Linked DNA regions of Homo sapiens. The protein of the gene in region 3 purifies or fractionates together with the protein of the main gene of each other region. This does not show direct contact. Each region holds a gene or a part of one and is shown on either strand. Other genes may lie near its edges.

Region 1 (2,606 bases), on a different chromosome or scaffold from region 3:
AGGAAAATACCAACCTAGAGTGCAGTGCCACTGGGGTGGGGGTGGTGAAACTTTACTGCCATGGAAATAACCAGGGCAAAAGATTGGTGTGAGGCAGAAGGCTAATTCAAGTTGGGATTTTTTTTTTTTTTTTTTTGAGACGGAGTCTCGCTGTCACCCAGGCTGGAGTGCAGTGGCGTGATCTCGGCTCATGGCAACCTTCGCCTCCTGGGTTCAAGTGATCCTCCTGCCTCAGTCTCCTGAGTACCTGGGACTACAGGTGCATGCCATCACGCCTGGCTAATTTTTGTATTTTTAGTAGAGACAGGGTTTCGCCATGTTGGCCAGGCTGGTCTCCAACTCCTGACCTCAAGTAATTTGCTGCCCTCGGCCTCCCAAAGTGTTTGGATTACAGGCATCAGCTACTGCGCATGGCCTGAGTTGGAATTTTTAAAAGTAGATATATTAGCCAGCCTGCCTCTGCATGGGATGAGTGCGGCACTGGTTCTTGGTAGGTTTTTAGAAAAATAAGATATAAATGTGTAATATAAAGAAAAAGATTAACATTTTTTTAAAAAGTAGATTTATTAAAAAACAGTTGAAGGTCTGAGTGTTGAGAGGCAAATGGGGTCTCTGGGGGATCCTGTCCTGCAGCAGGCCTGACTTTCAGATGACTGTGCTTATAAGGCAGATCAGTGCCTTCCTGGTTGCCTTAGTTCTTTCCATTTCAGACACCACATTTGGATCCTGGGGCAGCTGCTCAACTCTACCCAACTCTACCATGGCTACCTGGGATTGGAGAACATGTGAGTATTAGCTACTTTTACAGTCAAATAGGGATCTTGTAGAAGAAACAGGTAGACAGACCCACCAGTCTCTCATTCTGACCTAGCAAGCTGGTGAAGTCACTGTCGGTCCTAGTTCCCTTGTTTGTTGGGCTGCAGGCCCATTCCAACACAGCCCAACTCCCCCCCCCCCCCCTTTTTTTTTTTTTGAGATGGGGCCTCACTATATCGCCCAGGCTGGTCTCAAACTCCTAGGTTCAAAGGATCTTCTAGCCTCAGTCTCCTGAGTAGCTGGGACTACAGTGCGTGCCACCATGCCTTTTTTTTTTTTTTAATGAGACAGGGTCTCACTATGTTACCTAGGCTAGTCTCAAGCAACCCTCCTGCCTCAGCCTCCCAAGTAGCTGGGACTACAGGCACAAGCCACTGCACCCAGCTCCAACTCCTTTCTTTATGCAAATACAAAAGGCAAACCTTGGTGCGACACTTAGTCCTTAGTAGCAACCCTGGCTCATCCTCCTAGTCTTTCCCTAGTATTTGCATCAATGGCTAACTAAGCTGATGGCAGACCTCATCCTGGGGTAATACTCATTCAGGGAAGCAGCAACAAAGGAGGGTGGGGAAAGAGGTCAGGTCAGATTTACCTAACATGATATGTAGCATAATAGGTGCCCATTAAATCTCAGCTACTAGTAAAGTTGGTGAGGAAGAGGTATGGAGGCGTTAAGACCTGAAGCACTGAGTTGGTCCATAACCCTGGGCTTTAGAACAAGGTCTGGTTTTATTTTCTGGCAGAATCTTTTAAAATATAAAACAGATAAAACACATCTCAACCCTGCAATCTGCCAGCATGCCTTGTTTCTACAAGATGCATGCTAGACCATGAGACTACATAGCAAAGGGTCTTTAAGAGGATTTGGTTGGGAGAAATAGAAAAAGCAGATCTTAGGGAAGCCTGGGCTAGCCCAAAAGCTGAGCTACATCCCTGAACACTAGAGCAGTCCTTGTCTTTTCAGATCCTCGTATGTCTTCTTATTCACAACATTCCCACTTGAGTCTTCATATTCTTCCTGAAAAGGAAGGGGTACACTTTGTTAGACAGCTCTCCTAAAAGAAATGTTTGGAACCAATCTCTAAGTACCTGAGCTCATCCTGGCCTGATTCCATGGCATACTCTGGTACACTAAGATTGGCATTCATCTAAGCCTTTCTCAACTGGGGTTCCACAAGAGAATTAAGTCCCACTGCCCCAAAGCAGCCACCGTGTGCAATGAATTAACTTCTCTCGTAGACATCTAGAATGATATCAGTCATGACCCATCATTAGAGTATCTGAGAAAATAGTTTATTTAGCTCTCTATGTTTAAGATGGGGAACCCTGGTTGAGAAAGGCTGACCTACAACAGCAGTTTTCAAATGGTTCCCAAGAATCCCAGGATTCTGCTCAGAGGCCATTGCAGGGGTTGAAAGGGAAGCCAGGAAGTCTGAGCTTCCCCATGTCCAGGGCAATTCTGCTTGATTCTATTTTATATATCAGAGTACTATATTACAAGTGGAAGAGAGTTTTGCTGCCAAAAAGAAAAAAAATACTGAAAACCACTGACTCAAAAAAAGGGAGGCTATTGTCAGTTACTATGGGACTTGGAGTGAGTCAGTACCATTCCTTACATACATGTCATTCTTGATCTCTGAAACCTGCTGCTTGGGATGACCATCATAAGACCAACAAGGACATCTCCCTGTCGCTATGAGAGTATCATCTCTCATTAGATGCTTTCCTCAAAGGAGATCTAATACATGATACAGAGTCTCGGCATTTTAGTCTATAAATCTCCATGGCAG
Region 2 (7,000 bases), on a different chromosome or scaffold from region 3:
CTGGGCAGGGAACCCTGTAGGTCTAAGCCGTAGTTCACACTCTTAACCATGAGCCCCCTGCTAACTCCCTGAGGTCCTATCCAATACTGCAGTGACCTTGGTCCTAGAGGGTGGGTTTCAAGGGATCAAAGACTGCATTTCACCTGCTGGATGTGAGATGAGGTCATCTGACTCTGGCCGTGTCAGCCCTAGCAGGCCTAGCAGTGCCCTCCACCACTCACCAGGCAAACAAATGTGGCTTCCAAGAAGGACAACCACCCCCGTTTGCTAAGCCCTTCCTAGGACCAAGCTGTGGGCCCTGGGCTTCCCTGATAGTCCAAGTTCAGGTTGTTACTTCTGAGCAGAGGCAACTGAGGCTCAGAGAGGCCAAGTGGCTTGCCTGAGATGATGTGACTACTGAGCAATGAAGCTGGGCCTCATACTACCCTGCCTAGGACTGCAGGCCCCCCCACCACAACGCTTCCTCCCCAGCCCCTCAATACCCCACTTTGGCTGCCAGAGGCTATGAGCAGCCCCAGCTGGCCCCTCACCACCCTGGACTATAACTGGGTCAGCCTTTGAGGGCAAGGACCAGGCCTTGGCCCTCATGGGTCCCTGCTTCCAGCACCAGGGCCTGACCTAGAACACACTCTCTGGAAACGTGTTAAACTGCAAAGAATCTGGCTGGGCATGGTGGCTCACGCCTGTAATCCCAGCACTTTGGTAGGCCGAGGTGGGTGGATCACCTGAGGTCAGGAGTTCGAGACCAGCCTGGCCAATATGGTGAAACCCCGTCTCTACTAAAAATACAAAAATTAGCCGGGCGTGGTGGTGGGCACCTGTGATCCCAGCTACTTGGGAGGCTGAGGCATGAGAATCGCATGAACCCAGGAGGTGGAGGTTTCAGTGAGCTGAGATCGCACCATTGTACTCTAGCCTGGGCGACAGAGCGAGACTCCGTCTTGAAAAAAAAAAAGAAAAAAAAAAAAAAACTGCAACGAATCCAAGCTCCTCCAGCTCCTCATTCATGAGAGACAGGGTAGCTGCGGCATTGGAAACATGGACTCTGAAGTTTTACTTCCTGCCATCCAATCTGATGAGATTCAGCCAGGATAGTGCTTGGTACACACACCTGGAACACACTAAGTGCTCAAAAAGATGTCTGCTGCTGTCAGTCTCTCCATTATCATCACCATCATCTGACTTTTCCTTTGCACACTACATAGTTTCCCACCTCCGTGCCTTTACTGATGCTGTTCCCTTTCCCTTCCTCCACACAGGTCCAAATTTCAGTCAGGCTTTGCATATTTTAACTGCCACTCTCTAGTCATCATGCATAATTACATAGTCATGCAGAAGGCAGTTGACAGTAATCAGTTGTGGCATGCATTAGTGCCCACAGATGCCAGCCCAGTGTCTGGCCTCCGGGAGGTGGGATGAGGTCTGTCCTGGGCTGGGAATCCAGCACCAAGCCCGCCTCCCACACCCTCCCCCCAGCACCTGCTTGCAGAGTTCCTCCTCAACCTCGATCTCTTCTTCATCCTCATCATCCTCTTCCTCTTCTTCATCACCCTCGAAGCAACCCACAGCGTCCACTGTAATGAAGTGGTCCTCATCTTGGCCAGCAATTTCTTTCTCAAGCGACTTCAGCTGCCCAGGGAGTAGGCAAGGAGCTCAGGTCAGCTCTGAACAGCCAGGGGGCCATGCCCTACCCACCCCACCCCTCCCCTGAGAGTCCCAATCCCTCCAGACCCGCTGTGAGTTTGGGCTGGGATAAACCTCAACTTGCTACACAGCCTTGGCCAAGGCTCTGTACCTCTCTGGGCCCATGTCCTCTGAGGGAGCTCAGGTTACCTCCTTGGCTTTGTCCTTATGCCCCTGGGACTTCACGTGCTCCACAAACTTGCGAGGGGTTTTGAAGTAGCGGTTGCAAACGGTGCAGAAGGGTCGCAAGGATTGTTTGGCAATCTGGAAAAAGGCAGGCCAACCAAGCAGTGTCCCCAGCTGCAAGCCCCCTGACTAGCACCCAGGCAGGGCCCAGCAAGAGCTCACCTCCCCCGGGCAGGCCCACCATATCTGTAACAAGCCGGGCTGTGCTCCACCCCTGCACTGGAACGTGGGCAAACACATCTCTTCGTGGTGTGGGTGGCTGAGAGATAGGATGGCAGATGGCAACACAGAGACAGGACAGACACAGAGAGAAGACGAGAGAGAGGGCAGCTGCCCAAATAACCCCTGTGAGCCCCGTGGCTGAATGGCAGGTGAGATGGGGCCTGGCCTACACTGGACAGATGGGGAACCTGAAGCCCGAAGAAGAAACAAGACTGACTCCTCCAGAAACTGCATTGTGGGTTATGGGTGTGCAGGGGCAAAGAGGAACGTTTACTTTCCAACTGGGGCTCTGTGTTGTCTGGACTCCACTTGCAGACGGCAGTGCGGGTGCCTCTGCAGCGTGCAGGCCCTCCTACCTTGTGGTCCTGTGTCCTGCGGTGTTGGATCAGGTCCCCCATGTAGTAGAGCTGGCAGGTGTTGCACCAGCGCCTTGGTGGAGGCTCCCTGAATGACAACAGTCAAAGCAAGTACAATGTGACGCCAGAAAGACAGCAGCTGTCTGAGAGCGCTCCATAAGTGTAATCCATTCCAATAGCAACTCCCACAGGATCTCTTAGGGAAGCTTAACAAAATGGTTCTGAGGTTCATCTGGATGAGTACTTAAGCAGAAATAACCCAGGAAACTTTAGGGGGAAGGGGAATGAAGCACTGGGGATACCAACCTTTAAAATGAAAACCACAAGCTACAATAGATAAAACTGTGTAGTGTGATGTACATCCTGACAGTGTATCAGTGGGAAAGAATGGAAAGTCCTAAACAGGTTCAAATATTGGTAAGAATTCAGCTTCGCCAGCCTGGGCAACATGGGGAAACCCCATCTCTAGCAAAAATACAAAAAATTAGCCAGGCATGGTGGCTCATGCACCTGTGGTCCCAGGTACTCAGGAGGCTGGGGTGGGAGGATGGCTTGAGCCTGGGAGGCAGAAGTTGCAGTGAACCAAGATAGCGCCACTGCACTCCAACCTGGGTGACAGGGTGAGACCCCCATCTCAAAAAAAAGAATTCTGCTTCTGATAAATTGGTATTGAAAAGCATAGATTATACAACAAATTATGTCAGAACAATTTGTTGTCTACTTGGAGAAGAAACGCCTTCTGCTTCCACCTTCTACCTTACTTGAAAATGAATTCTAGCTGAACTACCAGAGATTCAGGCATAAAAATAAAAACCATATACTTTAAAAAGGGAGGCCGGGCATAGTGGCTCACACCTGTAATCCCAGTCCTCAAGGCAGAAGGACTGCTTGAGCCCAGGAGTTTGAGACCAACCTGAGCAACACAGCAAGACCCCATCTCTACAAAACATAAAAAACATTAGCTGGGTTTGGTGGCACATGCCTGTAGTCCTAGCTGCTCAGAAGCTGAGGTGGGAGGATTGCTTGAGCCCAGGAGGTCGAGGCTGCAGTGAACCATGACTGCCACTGCACTCCAGCTGGGGCAACACAAGACGCTGTCTCAAAAATAAATAATAAATAAATAAAAAGGGGGCCAGTCGCAGTGGCTCATGCCTATAATCCCAGCACTTTGGGAGGCTGAGGCAGGAGGATCGCTTGAGCCTAGAAGTCCAAGACCAGCCTAGGCAACATAGTGAGATCTTGTCTCTATATAAAATAAAATTAGTCAGGCATGGTGGTGTGCACCTATAGTCCTAGTTACTTGGAAAGTTGAGGTGGGAGAATTCCTTGAGCCCAGGAGGTTAAGGTTGCAGTGAGCCGAGATCACCATTGCCCTCCAGCCTGGGTGACAGAGAGAGACCCGGTCTCAAAAAATAAAATAAAATAGGGCCGGGCACGGTGGCTCACGCCTGTAATCCCAGCACTTTGGGAGGCCAAGGCAGGCACATCATAAGGTCAAGAGTTCAAGACCAGCCTGACCAACATGGTGAAACCCCATCTCTACTAAGAATACAAAAAAAAAAAAAAAATTAGCCGGGTGTGGTGGCACGCGCCTGTAATCCCAGCTACTCGGGAGGCTGAGGCAGGAGAATTGCTTGAACCCAGGAGGCGGAGGTTGCAGTGAGCCAAGATCGCGCCACTGCACTCTAGCCTGGGCAAAAGAGCAAGACTCCGTCTCAGAAAATAAATAAATAAATAAATAAAATAATACTTATTTTACAAGGGGAGAGCAACTATTTAATCTTGGGTTGGGAAAGATCATTGCAACATATAACATCAAAGCCAGAAATCATAAAGGAAAAAACTGATAGATCCGATTGCATAAAAATTTAAAACTTCTACATGTTGAAAGATATAAGAAAATTAAAAAGCAAACAAATGTCAATGACAAGGGCTGTGCTATCACTGGCCAGAGTGTATCCTTTATGTAGGCAGCTTCTTAAACCAAGGCTGGGCATACCGCTGGTTCACGCCTGTAATCCCAGCACTTTGGGAGGAGGGTTCCTTGAGCTCAGGAGTTCTGAGGCTGCATTGAGCTGTGATCACACCACTACGCTCCAGCCTGGGTGACAGAGTGAGACACTGTCTCAAAAAAAAAAAAAAAAAAAAAAAAAAAAAAGAAAAAAGAAAAGCCAAATACATGTAAAACCCTGGCTGGGCATGGTGGCTCACGCCTGTAATCCCAGCACTTTGGGAGGCCAAGGCAGGCGGATCACTGAGGTCAGGAGTTCAAGACCAGTCTGGCCAACATGGTGAAACCCTGTCTCTACTAAAAATACAAAAAAATTATCCAGGCGTTGTGGCAGGCACCTGTAATCCCAGCTACTTAGGAGGCTGAGGCGGGAGAATTGCTTGAACTGGGAGACGGAGGTTGCAGTGAGCCAAGATTGCGCCACTGCACTCCAGCCTGGGCAACGGAGCGAGACTCCCTCTCAAAAAAAAACCAAAAAAAGTGTCTCACTCAGCGAAAATAAGGACTCTCTATAAAATATGCAAATACACAAGTTTTCATAAATTTTAGGGGACACATGTCCACTGATAAAGCCCTGTAAGAGCTCTGCTGGGGAGGGCTGCTTAGAGACAGAAAGTGTTCGTGTTGTCATGTAGCATGATTCCGATTTTTATTTTTAAAGATTGTATAAATCCAGAAAGGATCACAAGAAGAACTAGGTCAAAATGTAAACAGTGTTTATCTCTGGGTAATGGGATTATGGGTGATTTTTATCTTCTCATGTGTCTGTGTCCTTGTATTTTCAAAACGTTATATAATGAGCGAATTATTTTTAAAATCAGAAAAAAAAATTTTTTTGTAGTCAAAAAAGGCACATCAGCCACACAGTGAGAGTACCAGGTTTTAGATTTTAGGATTTAGGGACATTTACTGTCCTCAGTAAAATCTTCTTAATACTGCTGCAAGCAACAAAATCAGACTTTAAAGCAGCTTGCTCCAGGCTGGAGTGCAGTGGCATGATCAAGGCTTACTGCAGCCTCTACCTCCTGGGCTCGAGCAATCCTCCCACCTCAGCCTCCTAAGTAGCCAGGACTACAAGTGCATGCCACCAGGCCTGGCTAATTTCTTTTTTTTTTTTTTTTTTTTTTTTTTTGAGACGGAGTCTCGCTCTGTCGCCCAGGCTGGAGTGCAGTGGCGCGATCTTGGCTTACTGCAAGCTCCGCCTCCTGGGTTCAGGCCATTCTCCTGCCTCAGCCTCCCAAGTAGCTGGGACTACAGGCGCCTGCCACCACGCCCGGCTAATTTTTTGTATTTTTTAGTAGAGACGGGGTTTCACCGTGTTAGCCATGATGGTCTCGATCTCCTGACCTCATGATCCACCCGCCTCAGCCTCCCAAAGTGCTGGGATTACAGGCGTGAGCTACCGCGCCCGGCCGGCTAATTTTTTTATAGTTTACAGAGACACAGGTCTCATGACGGGCTGGTCTTGAACTCCTAAACTCAAGCAATCCCCCCACCTCAGCCTCCCAAAGTGCTGGGATTATAGGTGTGAGCCACCATGCCAGCCTGGCTCTATTTTTCAATGTGCATTTTGATCTCTGTGAGAGAAAAACACAACAAATGAAGAAAGGGGGTGGGGAGAGAACATGGTCATCAAACAGGCAGACACCTTGTGCCAGTGTCACGTCTGAGGCTGCCCAGAAACGGCCAACGCGGGCCGGGCATGGTGGCTTGCACCTGTAATCCCAGCACTTTGGGAGGCCAAGGCGGGCAGATCACAAGGTCAGGAGATCAAGACCATCCTGGCTAACACAGAGAAACCCTGTCTCTACTAAAAATACAAAAAATTAGCCGGGCCTAGTGGTAGGCGCCTGTAGTCCCAGCTACTCGGGAGGCGGAGGCAGGAGAATGGCGTGAACCCAGGAGGCGGAGCTTGCAGTGAGCCGAGATCGCGCCACTGCACTCCAGCCTGGGTGACAGAGCGAGACTCCATCTCAAAAACAAAACAAAAAAACAAAAAAAAAAAACAAAGAAATAGCTAAGGTAGGCAAGGGCTTAGTTCACAGCACCTGCCCTGGGGGCTTTGAGGAGGGAGGAGACGGGCACCCCCACCAGCTAGGGTATTGGGATCCAGCCTTCAGCCCCATTCCTGGGAACACCCCCCTGCCTTCCATGGGGAAATGTATTTCCATGTGGTTTGGGTAGAGCTGGCCTGCCTAGGCCTAGCCAGTCAGAACACCTTATCCCTGGCCAGGGGATTGCTTCAGAAACGTGCACGTGACCACAATCAGATTAACCAGCATTTCCACTAGAAACTGTTCTGCTACCGCAGACACAGGTGACTGCCCTTCCTTGGAAGTCACTGTGCAGGGAGGCTGGGGCTGTGGGTACCTGGTGCCCACTGTAGTGAGAGATGGAGCCTCTCTAAGAAATGGTATCCCCTGGGTCCAGCTGTATCTCTTATATTCCCACTAACCTAAGCCAGAAACATTGTTCCTTTTTGCTCAAGCTAATTTCTGTCTTATAGAAATTAGAATTTTTTTCACTTACAACCGCGAAGAAC
Region 3 (5,260 bases):
GTGACTGGAGCTGGAGGGGGAAGAGTGCAGGGAGGCAGCTTGCTTTGGCAGGACGCATGGAGGTGTCAGACGTGGGGGGCGGGGTGGCGGCCAGGCCAGCGAGCCAGGCCAGGGCCAGGACGGACAGGAGACACGGGGGTGGGGGCCGGATGCCCACCTAGGGGTTGTCTCCCAGCGGGGCCCGCCCTCCCTGACTCAGCCTTTCCACCTACCCCGACCCCGGGAGAACTGGGAGGGGGATGGGAGGCACCCGCCCTGGGGCCCACCACCCCCAGGTCTCAGAGGCAGTGACCAGGGGGTGTGTCTCCCGTCATCCCTACCCCACTCTGTCTCCACCTCTCTTCCTGTCTCCCCATCTAATCCCTGTCCCTGGGACTGGCTCCACCTCTGTCTGTCAGCTAGATGCTCACGTCTTGACCATCTGACTAACCCTAATTCTGACTCAATTTCTGTGTCTCTCATCGCTTTTTAAAAACCTACACAACAAATTTACGTATAGCAAAGTATATTGTAAACAAATTTAATGACCAAATGATAGACTGGTAAAAAATGTGCCTATCACCAAGGGCTGATACCTTTCCTGTGGCCCAGGCCCTCTGCTCTTTAAAAATGGGGCACAAATACAGGCAGGTAAGAGACAGACAGCTCTCATCCTGCACTCTTGGCTTTCTGAGAGATATGACCCCAAGGTCCTGGAGTCTAGCTGCTGCTTCCTCCTCTGGGAAATAGAGGAGTGATATTGGTAGTACCTAGGGCATAGCACTGCTGGGACAATTCAGTGATTTGGGGACTGATCTCCATATCAAGATGACCTGATCCTGTCTGTGTGCGGGACAGTGGCTAGCACGGAGCCCTTGTTAGGCCCGCCTACCATCTGACCCTTCTCAAACCTTCCCGTCTGAGGACATCTGCATGCACACTTGTCCCTCCAATGCTGTCTCACTCTGGATGGCCCTGACACCTGAGAGGCCAGACAGCCAAGTGGTTTCTAGGACCTTTGTGATTCTAGGCCTGGGTTCCTGTTTCATTTCTGCCTCTGATGGCCGAGTGGCCTTGAGGAAGCAACATCTTTCCAGGCCTCCTTTGACCCACTTCACTAGTTCATGGGGCCATCTGAGGATCCAACCCGGTGTCAGGCACTTCGCTCGGGCCTGACAGAGGACAGAAGCGCTCCGTAGCAGAGGCTTTCGTTCTTTAATAGTCGCTCTGAGCATCTTGTCTGCCTCCATCCAGCTCTCACTTTCCCTGTCTGGCTCTAATTCTGGTTGACCCAGAGGGCATAGCTGAGGCTCGGAGGTCAGGAACCGTGGACTCCAGGAGGCAGTTTTGAGGGTCCTTCAGGCTTGGCCACGGCAGGATACCACCATTCCATCTCAGAGGCATGAGGAGTCCCTAGGCCCCGACTTGGTGACCCTTGCCCTGTGTGCCCCCTCAACAGTGGCCAGGCCCTCCTGTGTGTGTCTGCTGGGGGAGCAGGAGCCGGGTGTGGGGGCATGGGAAGGCGGGACGCCTGGGTTCCCACAGGCCCGGTGGCTGAGTCACCAGGCGGCCATCTGGCTCCCATTAGCCCAGGGCGGCAGGGGGCTCCATGGGGCGGGCCCTGCGGCCAGCTGGGGGCAGGGACGCTGGGGCAGGCTGTGTGTGGGATGACTCAGGACCCATGATAACAGCCTGTGCGCATTTGGGGAGTGTAAACAGGAGAGGGAGAGGAAGGCGGAGGAAGGGAAAATTGTGGTTGGGCAGAGGGGGGCTGGTGGGGCTGAGAAGGGTAGAGTCCCCCCTCCCTCTACACTCAAGCTGGCAGGCCCCGTGATCCACAGCCTGGGTCCTGGGGAGAGAAGAGAGCTGCCCCCATCCTCCCTGCCTGGGGTCTCCTCCCTCCCCTGGGGCTGTATTACTCAGTGGTCAGGGTTCTGCTGCCTATAGCAGCCAGGTTTGAGGGAAGGGGGAAGAAGGGGCCCAGAGCCTGGAGTGGGGGATCAAAACCCAGAGATAAAGGCTGAGAGACAGACAGAGAGGGACAGTGAGAGCAGAGGCCTAGAGAGGTGGAAATGTACAAGTAGAAAGAAGAGGCCCAGAGTGAGGCAGAAGGAGAGATGGGAACCTAACAGAAGCAAGGAGGCTCTGAGTGTGAGACACAGCGCAGACATAAACAGAGAGGGGGAGACAGACAGCACGGGAGGCAGCTGCGCTGGGGCCTAGGGGTCAGCACCGGAACCAAACTGGCCACTTCCAGCCACGAAAGGCCCTGCCAGCTGGCCTCCGGCAAGGGGAGGACTTTCACCTTGGGCCCTGCGGTGGAGACAGAGCCTAAGGCAGAGAGAGAGGGGGAGAAAGGGAGAGACAGCCAGCCAGAGCACTGGAAAGAGGGAGCGGGGGTAGGGAGAGAGACAGAAAGACAGAAAGAGACAGAAAGAAGCCCAGACAGACACCAAGAAAGACAGAGGCAGGAGACAGGGTGGGAGAGATGAGAAAGGGAACCCCAGAAACAGTGGGGGTGGGGGTTGTCTGAGATGAGACTAGACCCAGTGAGATGGTGGTGTGTGTGGGTTGTGGGGCACTGCCCTGATGTCCCCCTAGAGAAAGGGTCACTGAGCAGGCCTGGAATCAGCTGCCTTGTTGGGGATGGGGATGGGGCAGGCGGTGGGAAGGGTGGCGGCCATCAGTCCCCATCCAGCTCTGGGCTGGGCGCATCCTCAGGTTCTTCCTCATCAAAGTACCTCTCCTCCTCATCCCGTGCCACGATGTCGAGGTTGTCGAAGTCGGGGTTGTCGTCTACTGTGCTGCAGGAGGAGGAGGCTGTCAAGGACTGGGTCTCCCTGGGACCCTCGGATGCCCAGGTCAAAGGCCTGGGGCACCCTGATGTCAAAGGCCATGTGCTGGCAGCCGTCAGAGCTGACCCTCCCAAGGGAGATAGTGTTTAAAACTCTCAGGGTTTAAAACTCAAGGGAACATTTTCCAAATCAGAGTTTGCACAAAAACTCTGGGCTGGGCATGGTGGCTCATGCCTGCAATCCCAGCACTATGGGAGGCCAAGGCAGGAAGATGGCTTGAGCCCAGCAGTTGGAGCCCTGGGCAACAAAGGGAGACCCTGTCTCTACAAAAAAATTGAAAAAGTAGCCAGGCGTGGTGGTGAGCACCTGTAGTCCCAGCTTACTCAGTTGGCTGAGGCGGGAGGCTCACTTCAGGCCAGGAGGTCAAGGCTGCGGTGAGCTATGATCAAACCACCACATTCCAGCCTGGGTGACAAAGGAGACCCTGTCTAAAAAAAACCCCAAAGCTCTAGTTTTTCTTAAAAAGCTGTAAAATGTGGCGACACATGGGCTTACATTCTCAAGCAGGCAGTGGCTCTCAACAAAGAACCACTTGGGGGTAATTTTGCCCCCACGGCATTTTGACATTTTGACGTCATCACTGGGGGCTTGCTACTGCCCTCCAGTGGATAGAGGCCGGGATTAGCCAGAGCTGACCACAGGCAGGACAGCTGCCCATGCCCTAAGGCAGCAAGTAAACCCAGCAGCACGCACTTGGGTTGCCAAGCCTAGCTTGATTTGGCCACTCAGAGATCTCCTACCCCCTTGCGACCCCTTGCGACTGCTCCAGCCCCTTCTGCCCCTTGGTGCTGCTGGGGGCTCTGGCACCTACTATGGCCTCTGCCAGGAATGCTCCTCCCACTTCCTGCAGGCCTTTGCTGTCAGCCCCTCAGAGAGGCCTTCCCTAGCCACCCTGTCACTCCCCTCCCACTGCTTCACTTTTCCTCATGGCCCCATCACCATGAAGTGCTAGAAAATTCTAGATCTTCCTCACTAGAGTGGGACCCCTTTTCAGGCAGGGAAGCCTTTCGTTGGTTTTGGTCCCCGCCTTATCCCCAGAGCCTGTGGACATCACAGATGCTCAGCACATGCCAACTGAATGCACGGATGGGGGACACGTCGGGGCCACTGCTGCCCTCCCGAGGCAACACACTGTGGTCCCTGCCACCCCCAATTTCCTCCTGGGCCCTGGCTTGGGAACAGCAGTGATGCCTGCTGAATGAGGGTCCCCATGGTCCAGGCCCTCTGCTCACCACTTTGCGTGCAGGAACTGGGGCTCTGAGCAGGCCTGCCTGGCTGGAAGTGGAGCAGCCAGATTCCATTCAAGAGCCAGGGATCCCAGAATGGGAGGAGGCTCTGGTGACCATGGCTGGGCCCCACGGCAGGGGCAATCACAATTCCCACTTTCCTGATGAGCCCACCTCAGGACGGACGTAGGGTCCGCTTATGTGTGGTCACACATTTCACATGTCATCGGGGCTGGATGTGAAACCAAGGAGGGTCCTCTGCTGCTGGGCCCAGTGTTTGGGACCACAAGGCAAAGCTACCTTAAATGACAAAACCAATCTTTGACTGACACATCACTCTCCTGGGTCCTTTTCCAAAGCAGGTGGCCCACGTGTCTCAGCCCTGGGGTGCTACTGGAGAAATGAACAACTGTAACTGTGGGGGCAGCCAGTGCAGGCCCCTCCATGCCGGGCATGAACTTTGCCAGGGGTTACTTCCTGCAGCATGAGGAGGTCCAAGGTGAAGCGGAAGAGGTTGGGCTTCCTAGGGAGACTTGGGGGGCTTGGGGTAGTAGCCTCTGCCATTGCCAGGAGGGAAGTGTTTCAGGGTTTCATTGATACTGAGCTATATGTCATCCCTGTCCATCCCCTGCCTTAGAGGTGAGGAGACTGAGGGTCTGAGATGGACAAGGCTAGTCCGAGGTCACCCAGCCTCTTCCTTTGGCTGTTCAACCCCACATCCTGGAACTGTTTTGGGGCCTTGTAGCTCCACAAAGGGAGACCCCCACAGCTTGTTAAGGGCTCTGCATGTGACCAAAGGCCGTGGGATGCTGGGCTGGGGGATGGGGAGGTGGAGGCACAGGAGCACCTGTAGTCAAAGTCCCCGTCCTTGCCATCTAGGAAGCGCTGGTGCATGCGGCTGGTGAACTCCTCTCGCAGGATCAGCCTCTCCTCCGAGTCGGGAACCCAGGCCTCCGAGTCCTTGCCTGACCTCTGGTCTGCAGAGGGAGAGGAGAGGGGGTGTGAATGCGGGTGCACTCGGGCAGGCACTGAGCACAGAGTCCACAGAGAGCTGCTGCTCCTGTGCCCAGCCTTGCGCTGGGTGGCTCTGGGAACACACTAGTGACAGAGATGGCCCTGGTCCCTGCCCTCCAGGGACACGCATAAAACACATGACCATATAGTGCTCTGGAGACTGTATCCTCGGGTCAGGATCTGAGA
Region 4 (7,058 bases), on a different chromosome or scaffold from region 3:
ACGGTGAAACCCCGTCACTACTAAAAATACAAAAATTAGCCAGGTGTGGTGGCACGTGCCTGTAATCCCAGCTACTTGGGAGGCTGAGACAGGAGAATCGCTTGAACCCAGGAGGCAGAGGTTGCAGTGAGCCGAGATGACGCCACTGCACTCCAGCCTAGGCGACAGAGCAAGACTCTGTCTAAAAAAAAACGAACAAACAAACAAACGAAAAAACCCAAAAAACAATGCTAGATGAAATCATAAACATTTAGCAGAAGCTAAAATATGACATGACCAGTGGTAATTAGCATTTAGGAGAAAATTCTAACTTTTTAATAAGGCAAAGGAGGTTCTGCAATATGCCAGTAAATTTCTACCTAATTGGCATTTGAACAAGTTGTACCTATGTTTAACAGACAGTCTTATCTTCCCTAGCCCCTTAAAGCATTACATAAGACTCGTATGTCTAGTTGCTTATTTGTGGTGCTCAAAACAGAACTCTTGTCCTCTACACTCCCTGGCCCACATCCACCTGAATGCTCCCTCAGTGAATAGTGTTGCCAGTCTATCTGTCTATTCAAACTAAAAACCTAAAAATATGACTTGAATTCCTCTCTCTCTCCTTGTCCTCTGGTCAACATGGTGAAACCCTGTCTGTACTAAAAACACAAAAAATTAGCCGGGTGTGGTGATGGGCGCCTGTAGTCCCAGCTACTCAGGAGGCTGAGGCAGAAGAATCGCTTGAACCCGGGAGGCAGAGGTTTCAGTAAAGTAAAAATGATCTGTTAAAAAAGTCTGGTGCAGTGGTTCACACGAGCACTTTGGGAGGCCGAGGCGGGTGGATCCCTGGAGGTCAGGAGCTCGAGACCAGCCTGGCCAACATGGTGAAACCCTGTCTCTACTAAAAATACAAAAATTAGCTGGGCGTGGTAGCAGGCACCTGTAATCCCAGCTACTCGGGGGGCTGAGGCATATGAATTGCTTGAACCCAGGAGGCAGAGGTTGCAGTAAGCAGAGATCACGCCACTGCACTCCAGCCTGGGCGACAGCATGAGACTCCATCTCAAAAAAATTTTTTTTTTAAATGAATGATCTGTTAAAAGGTACAGATATAAATGAGACAGAGTCATTCCCTGCTTAAACCCCTTCAATGGCTTCCCATTATAGGAAACATAAAATCCAAACTCCTCCTTCAAATCCAGGAAGCCCTACATGATCTGACTCTGCTTACCCTCCACTGCCCCTTCTCCCTCAGCAACCTCCTCCACTGCCCCCTCTCCCTCAGCAACCTCCTCCACTGCCCCCTCTCCCTCAGCAACCTCCTCCACTGCCCCCTCTCCCTCAGCAACCTCCTCCACTGCCCTTCTCTCCTTTGGACTCTAGATTTCAGGTTCCCTGGCCTTTTTTCAGCCTTCAAGCTTCAGGCTTCTTCTTGCTGAGATCTCTCCACTCAGGTGTCAGCTCAAACATCACCTCCTCAGAAATTTCCTTGAGCAGGCAATCTATAGAAGCACAACTCTATTCTCATTACTCTATCACATCACTCTGCTTTATTTCTTTCTTTTTTTTTTTTTTTTTTTGAGACGAAGTCTAGTTCTATTGCCCAGGTTGGAGTGCAGTGGCTCAAGCTTGGCTCACTGAAACCTCTGCCTCCCGGTTCAAGTGATTCTTCTGCCTCAGACTCCTGAGTAGCTGGGACTACAGGCGCCCATCACCACGCCTGGCTAATTTTTTGTATTTTTAGTACAGACGGGGTTTCACCATGTTGACCAGGCTGGCCTCGAACTCCTGACCTCGTGATCCTCTCGCCTCAGCCTCCCAAAGTGCTGGGATTACAGGCGTGAGCCACCACGCCTGGCCTGCTTTATTTCTTTATAGCACTTAATATGATCACATTTTGAATGATCTGTTTTGCTTATCATCTCACACTCCCATATAAAAAACTAGCTCAATGAGAGCAAAGACTGTGTCTTTCACTGCTCTGTCTCTGTCCGCTAGCGAAGTGTCTAGCATACAGCAGGAACACATACTGCTGATTCTTTTTTATAAGCTTAGAATCTATTTCATTTCCCTCATTTCTCCTTGAAGTCTCACAGATTTCCTCTGAAACAAAAGCATTCAAAAGAGGCCTTAGCTGTTACTGAATTCCTGAAAGACCTCAGTTGAGGAACACTCTACTGTTAAAATGGGAATTAATTCCTCTCTATAAAAAAATGACAAGTTCCAAACAATTTTTCTGCCCCCTAAAAACCTAGCATGAACTTGCCTCATCTGGAAAGAAGTGCTCAAATAAAGGTGTTTAAAATCTGCACTGAAATTAACTGATGGCCTAAGATACAAAAAACAAAGATCGTGGAGGCTGCTTCTGCCCCATATTGACTACAATGAAGACACATGCATTTTTCCCAATTATAAGGTGATTATCCAATTTTATGCTATTTAAATTTAGCTGTATTACAAAAAAGACAAATCCTGATGAATCAGTCAAGGGAAGATGAGCTGTGATACCTCTGAAATAAATATACTGTCAAGGAATAGCAGCAAAACATACCAAATCAATCCTTAAAAAAGAATCCTGGAAGATAGAGAAGATACATACACACATATGCCTCACAGATTTTTTTTTTTTTTTAAATAAGCAACTGTGTGTTAGCTACAATTATCTTCATAGCCTAAGTGGAAGAGGAAGTCAAGATTTAATACAAATAACAAAAACTGTTTCCTAGTTCCTCAATATTTGAGTTCCTGATTTCTTTAAATCCTCTAATTCTTGCTGACATGTCATAAGCAGTTCTCTTATGACCTAAATAAATGTGGAAACAAAACAAAGTATTATTCTCTAAAGAAGTCAACTCATATACAGCAGAACCTCAGAAGAACATAACTTGCTATAAAGCAAGGGCTAGCTGCCTGTTTTGTAAATAAAGCTTTCCTGGAACACAGCCATACCCATTCATCTACATATTATCGATGGCTGCTTTCAGGGTACACTGGCAGAGTTGGATGTTTGCCACAGAGACCAAACCATAAAGCCTAAAATATTTACCATCTGGCCCTTTACAACATTTGCCAATGCCCAGTATAAAGGGTAAATAGGGTAAAGCTGAAGAAAACTTTAAGGAATCTGCCACTGCACGGACCCGAAGAAGAGCATCAGAAGGGAACTCTGGTGTTATGTCTAAACTGAAATATGATTCTTTCCAAACAAACAATGAAATGACAAGAAAAAGAGAAAAAAAAAACCCAAACTCTGACATGCCTACTGATTATTCTTCAAACTCATCACACAGCACATCCCATGACAGGAATCACCTCTTTTTCTTTCTTCTCCTGTCGTTTCTGCTCCTCCTCTTCTCTCTCTTTCCTCTGCTGTTCTTCCCATTGTTCCTTTAACTTTCTCTTTAAAGGGGAAGAAAAAGTAACTTTGTTTCAGTCACTTTTTAAAAACATTTCACATACAGCGCACATAGATGAAAAACTTAAAACACTGGCAAACTGAATAAGATCAGTTTTTTGTTTTTTTTTTTTAAGTTCAAGATAGGCAACTCTTTTTTTTTTTTCTTTTTGAGATGGAGTTCCGCTCTTGCTGCCCAGGCTGGAGTGCAATGGCGTGATCTCAGCTCACTCCAACCTCCCAAGATAGGCAACTCTTCATGAGAGTTATTATGGTGAAGTAATCAGTTTGTTCACTAGTTACGTGATTCCTACCATACCTCTTGTTCTTCTTGCCGTTTTTTAGCCGCCTCTTCCTTTTCCTTCTTTATTCTGAATTCTTCTTGTGCCTTCTGCTCTCTTAGCAACCACTCCTCATGTAATCTTTGCCTATCAGTATAATGATGTAATCAGATAAAAGAAATGGGCATTAATCCACAAATACACACACACACGAGAGCAAAATGACACATTTTGGGACTGATTCAAATATCACGAAAGCTATTTTCTATTAAAGCAGTCAAGTGGGTGTAAGAGAACGAGAAGAGCAGAGCTTTTGGAAAAGCACCACGTGTCAGCAACTATCTTCCTAATGGGTAATAACTTAAAATCTCTCTTACATTTCATAGGTATATATGGCTGTGACATACTTTACAGAAAAAAGGACACTATGACTTTCCCTCTAGACTGATCACAGTGATGTTTAGGTGACAATAAAATGGGTAGCAAGTTTCAAAGCAGCATCTACCTTTTCATATTCAGAAAGCATTTCCCTTCCTATTCTATGCATTTATTTTTATTTATTTATTTATTTTGAGACAGAGTATTACTCTGTTGCCCAGGCTGGAGTGCAGTGGCATGATCTTGGCTCACTGCAACCTCTGCCTCCCGGGTTCAAGTGATTCTCCTGCCTCAGCCTCCCGAGTAGCTGGGATTACAGGTGCCCACCACCACGCAAGGCTAATTTTTGTATTTTTAGTACAGACAGCGTTTCATCATGTTGGCCAGGCTGGTCTCGAACTCCTGACCTCAAGTGATCCACCTGCCTCGGCCTCCCAAAGTGCTGGGATTACATGTGTGAGCCACTGCACCCAGCCCCTATTCTTAAAAGTAGCAATTCCATGATGGCAGCACGCTGAAAACCCAGTATCCTTTGCCATAAACCTTTGGACTACTACTACACACAGTTAAGAGACTCCTGTGGTTTGCCTCCAAACACCTAAACAGCCAAAAGAAGGAAAATAAAAGTACATTGTAATCATGTTTTTAAAATAAAGCTACAGGTTTTAAGAAATGGAGTTATAAAAATAAATTAGTGAGGGCCGGGCGCAATGGCTCGCACCTGTAATCCAGCACTTTGGGAGGCTGAGGCGGGCGGATCACCTGAGGTCAGGAATTTGAGACCAGGCTGGCCAACATGGTGAACCCCATCTCTACTAAAAATACAAAAATTAGCCAGGCGTGGTGGCAGCCGCCTATAATCCCAGCTACTTGGGAGGCTGAGGCAGGAGAATCGCTTGAATCTGGGAGGCGGAGTTTGCAATGAGCCGAGATCATGCCACTGCACTCCAGCCTGGGTGACAGAGCGAGACTTCGTCTCAAAAAATGAAAAAATAAAAATAAATTAGTGAGTGTCTAGTCTATTTTTTATATGACCAATTATAATGAGTGGTATTACCTTAAAGTGGCAAGTGTCTCAGACATCCAATATCACAAATTTCTAATATAAAGAGGGGGTTAGATTGCCAAAGTCTACCTGCCAATTAGGTGTGTAGAACCTCAAATTCATTCTTCCACTGAATTTATAAAAGGGAAATTAAATATGAGAAACTGTTCTATATTACTTCAGCAGTATTAGGAGTTCAGTAAAGTTTTATGTCTAGTCTGGGGACCTAACCACAATTTTAAATAAAATATATTACATTTCCAAATACAGATTCCAGGAACACATCTTTTAGCCATGGCAGAGGCTGGCACATTGCATCTATCAGTGTTCCTATGCCATGTGTGAGGGTACCATATAGATGTTTCAGTGGGCACAACTCTGATTTACAAATCTTTTGAAAAACATATAATTGTATATAAATGAACCAAATGATATATAAATTAAGACCACAAGAAAGTAAAATGTTAAAAATTTTAAAATTTAATAACTTGAATATACATCTGCTTTGAAATAGGACATAAAGTCATACAGTATTTTTACATAATTTTCTTGCTTTTCAATAATAGTATGCAACTCATAAAGAAATAAAGATCTAAGGAGCACAAAGATACATGTATGTGATTTAAAAGAAGCATTTCAAATAAACAGGAAAAAAATTACTCTCTTATTTCATACCGTATCTATTGTCTTCATCATAACAGAAATCTATAATAATAAGAACTAGAGCTATCACAGCACCTCTCATCTGCTGACACTGTGTTAAACACTATACATCCATCACCTCCTTTAATCTTCACAATTCTGTGAGGTGGATACTGTGATTGACTTTATCTCCATATTACAGACAAGGAAATAGAAGCTTAGAGACATTAAGAAATTTCGGCTGAGCGCGGTGGCTCACACCTGTAATCTCAGCACTTTGTGAGGCCGAGGCGGGCAGATCATGAGGTCAAGAGATCGAGACCATCCTGGCCAACATGGTGAAACCCCATCTCTACTAAAAGTACAAAAAAAAATTAACTGGGTGTGGCGGTGCGTGCCTGTAATCCCGGCTACTCGGGAGGCTGAGGCAGGAGAATCGTGTGAACCTGGGAGGTGGAGGTTGCGGTGAGCGGAGATCACACCACTGCACTCCAGCCTGGTGACAGAACGAGAGTCCGTCTCAAACAAAACAAAACAAAAACAAATTTTAAAAAAACATGTATCCCAAAAGAGAAAGGTGTGAGACTTGAGCAATCTACAAATAGGTAATAAAACATATAAAAAGATACTCTACCTAATTCAGAAATGTGCATTTGAAACAGTTTCATTATAGTTTTATAAACTGATAATGCCTAGTATGAGTGAAGGTATGGGGAGATGGGCCCCTACATTCACTGCCAGAAGGGCTGCAAACTGCAAACCAGGAAGCCCTTTCTACCTGGCCATCTACATTTTACATGGACTTATGATTTGATTCCAACAATCTCATTTTTAGTCATGTTCTTAAGGAAATAACTGGACAATTACCAAGGATATATAAGCATGGATGCTTACTGCAACTTTTTACATATGAGTGAAAAACCAATATAACCTGAAAGTCCATCAGTAGAGAACTATAAATTATAAATGAATAAACTATGAATAGCAAATAAATTATGCTACATCTGTACAGTGGGTACTGTATTGCCACTGAAATGGCTGAATTAGATCCCTGCATCAGTACTGAAATAAATGCACTATATATTTAGCAAGAAAGCAATTTATAGAAAAATATGTATAAATATCATGCCATTATAGAAAGACACACGTAAAGTACATTTACACTTTCTTTTTCTCTTTCTTAACAGTGGCTATCTTTGGGTGTGTTGCAATTATTAAAGTCTTTTCCCTTTTTACATTTGTTAATTTTTTTTGTTTTTTTTCTGTTTTCAAAAACAATTACAGGTCAGGCGCAGTGGCTCATGCCTATAATCCCAGCACTTTGGGAGGCTGAGGC

Evidence for each region.
Region 1: the proteins of CCDC97 (region 3) and SF3A3 purify together in Homo sapiens (affinity purification with mass spectrometry; 2 studies listed by BioGRID and IntAct, with this or other methods). This does not show direct contact.
Region 2: the proteins of CCDC97 (region 3) and CIZ1 purify together in Homo sapiens (affinity purification with mass spectrometry; 2 studies listed by BioGRID and IntAct, with this or other methods). This does not show direct contact.
Region 4: the proteins of CCDC97 (region 3) and ZRSR2 purify together in Homo sapiens (affinity purification with mass spectrometry; 3 studies listed by BioGRID and IntAct, with this or other methods). This does not show direct contact.

The regions. Positions count from the first base shown.
Region 1 is NC_000001.11:37,956,430-37,959,035, forward strand, and holds the end of SF3A3 (splicing factor 3A subunit 3), read right to left. Parts: intron 1,835-2,606; coding exon 1,757-1,834; 3' UTR 546-1,756; downstream 1-545. UniProt on the Homo sapiens protein: Component of the 17S U2 SnRNP complex of the spliceosome, a large ribonucleoprotein complex that removes introns from transcribed pre-mRNAs.
Region 2 is NC_000009.12:128,167,573-128,174,572, forward strand, and holds part of CIZ1 (cip1-interacting zinc finger protein), read right to left. Parts: intron 2,536-7,000; coding exon 2,448-2,535; intron 2,129-2,447; coding exon of another isoform or gene 2,051-2,128; intron 1,948-2,050; coding exon 1,834-1,947; intron 1,630-1,833; coding exon 1,480-1,629; intron 1-1,479. UniProt on the Homo sapiens protein: May regulate the subcellular localization of CIP/WAF1.
Region 3 is NC_000019.10:41,320,118-41,325,377, reverse strand, and holds the end of CCDC97 (coiled-coil domain-containing protein 97), read right to left. Parts: intron 5,038-5,260; coding exon 4,908-5,037; intron 2,784-4,907; coding exon 2,663-2,783; 3' UTR 505-2,662; downstream 1-504. UniProt on the Homo sapiens protein: May play a role pre-mRNA splicing through the association with the splicing factor SF3B complex which is involved in branch-site recognition.
Region 4 is NC_000023.11:15,800,434-15,807,491, reverse strand, and holds part of ZRSR2 (U2 small nuclear ribonucleoprotein auxiliary factor 35 kDa subunit-related protein 2), read right to left. Parts: intron 3,805-7,058; coding exon 3,696-3,804; intron 3,382-3,695; coding exon 3,295-3,381; intron 1-3,294. UniProt on the Homo sapiens protein: Pre-mRNA-binding protein required for splicing of both U2- and U12-type introns. Selectively interacts with the 3'-splice site of U2- and U12-type pre-mRNAs and promotes different steps in U2 and U12 intron splicing.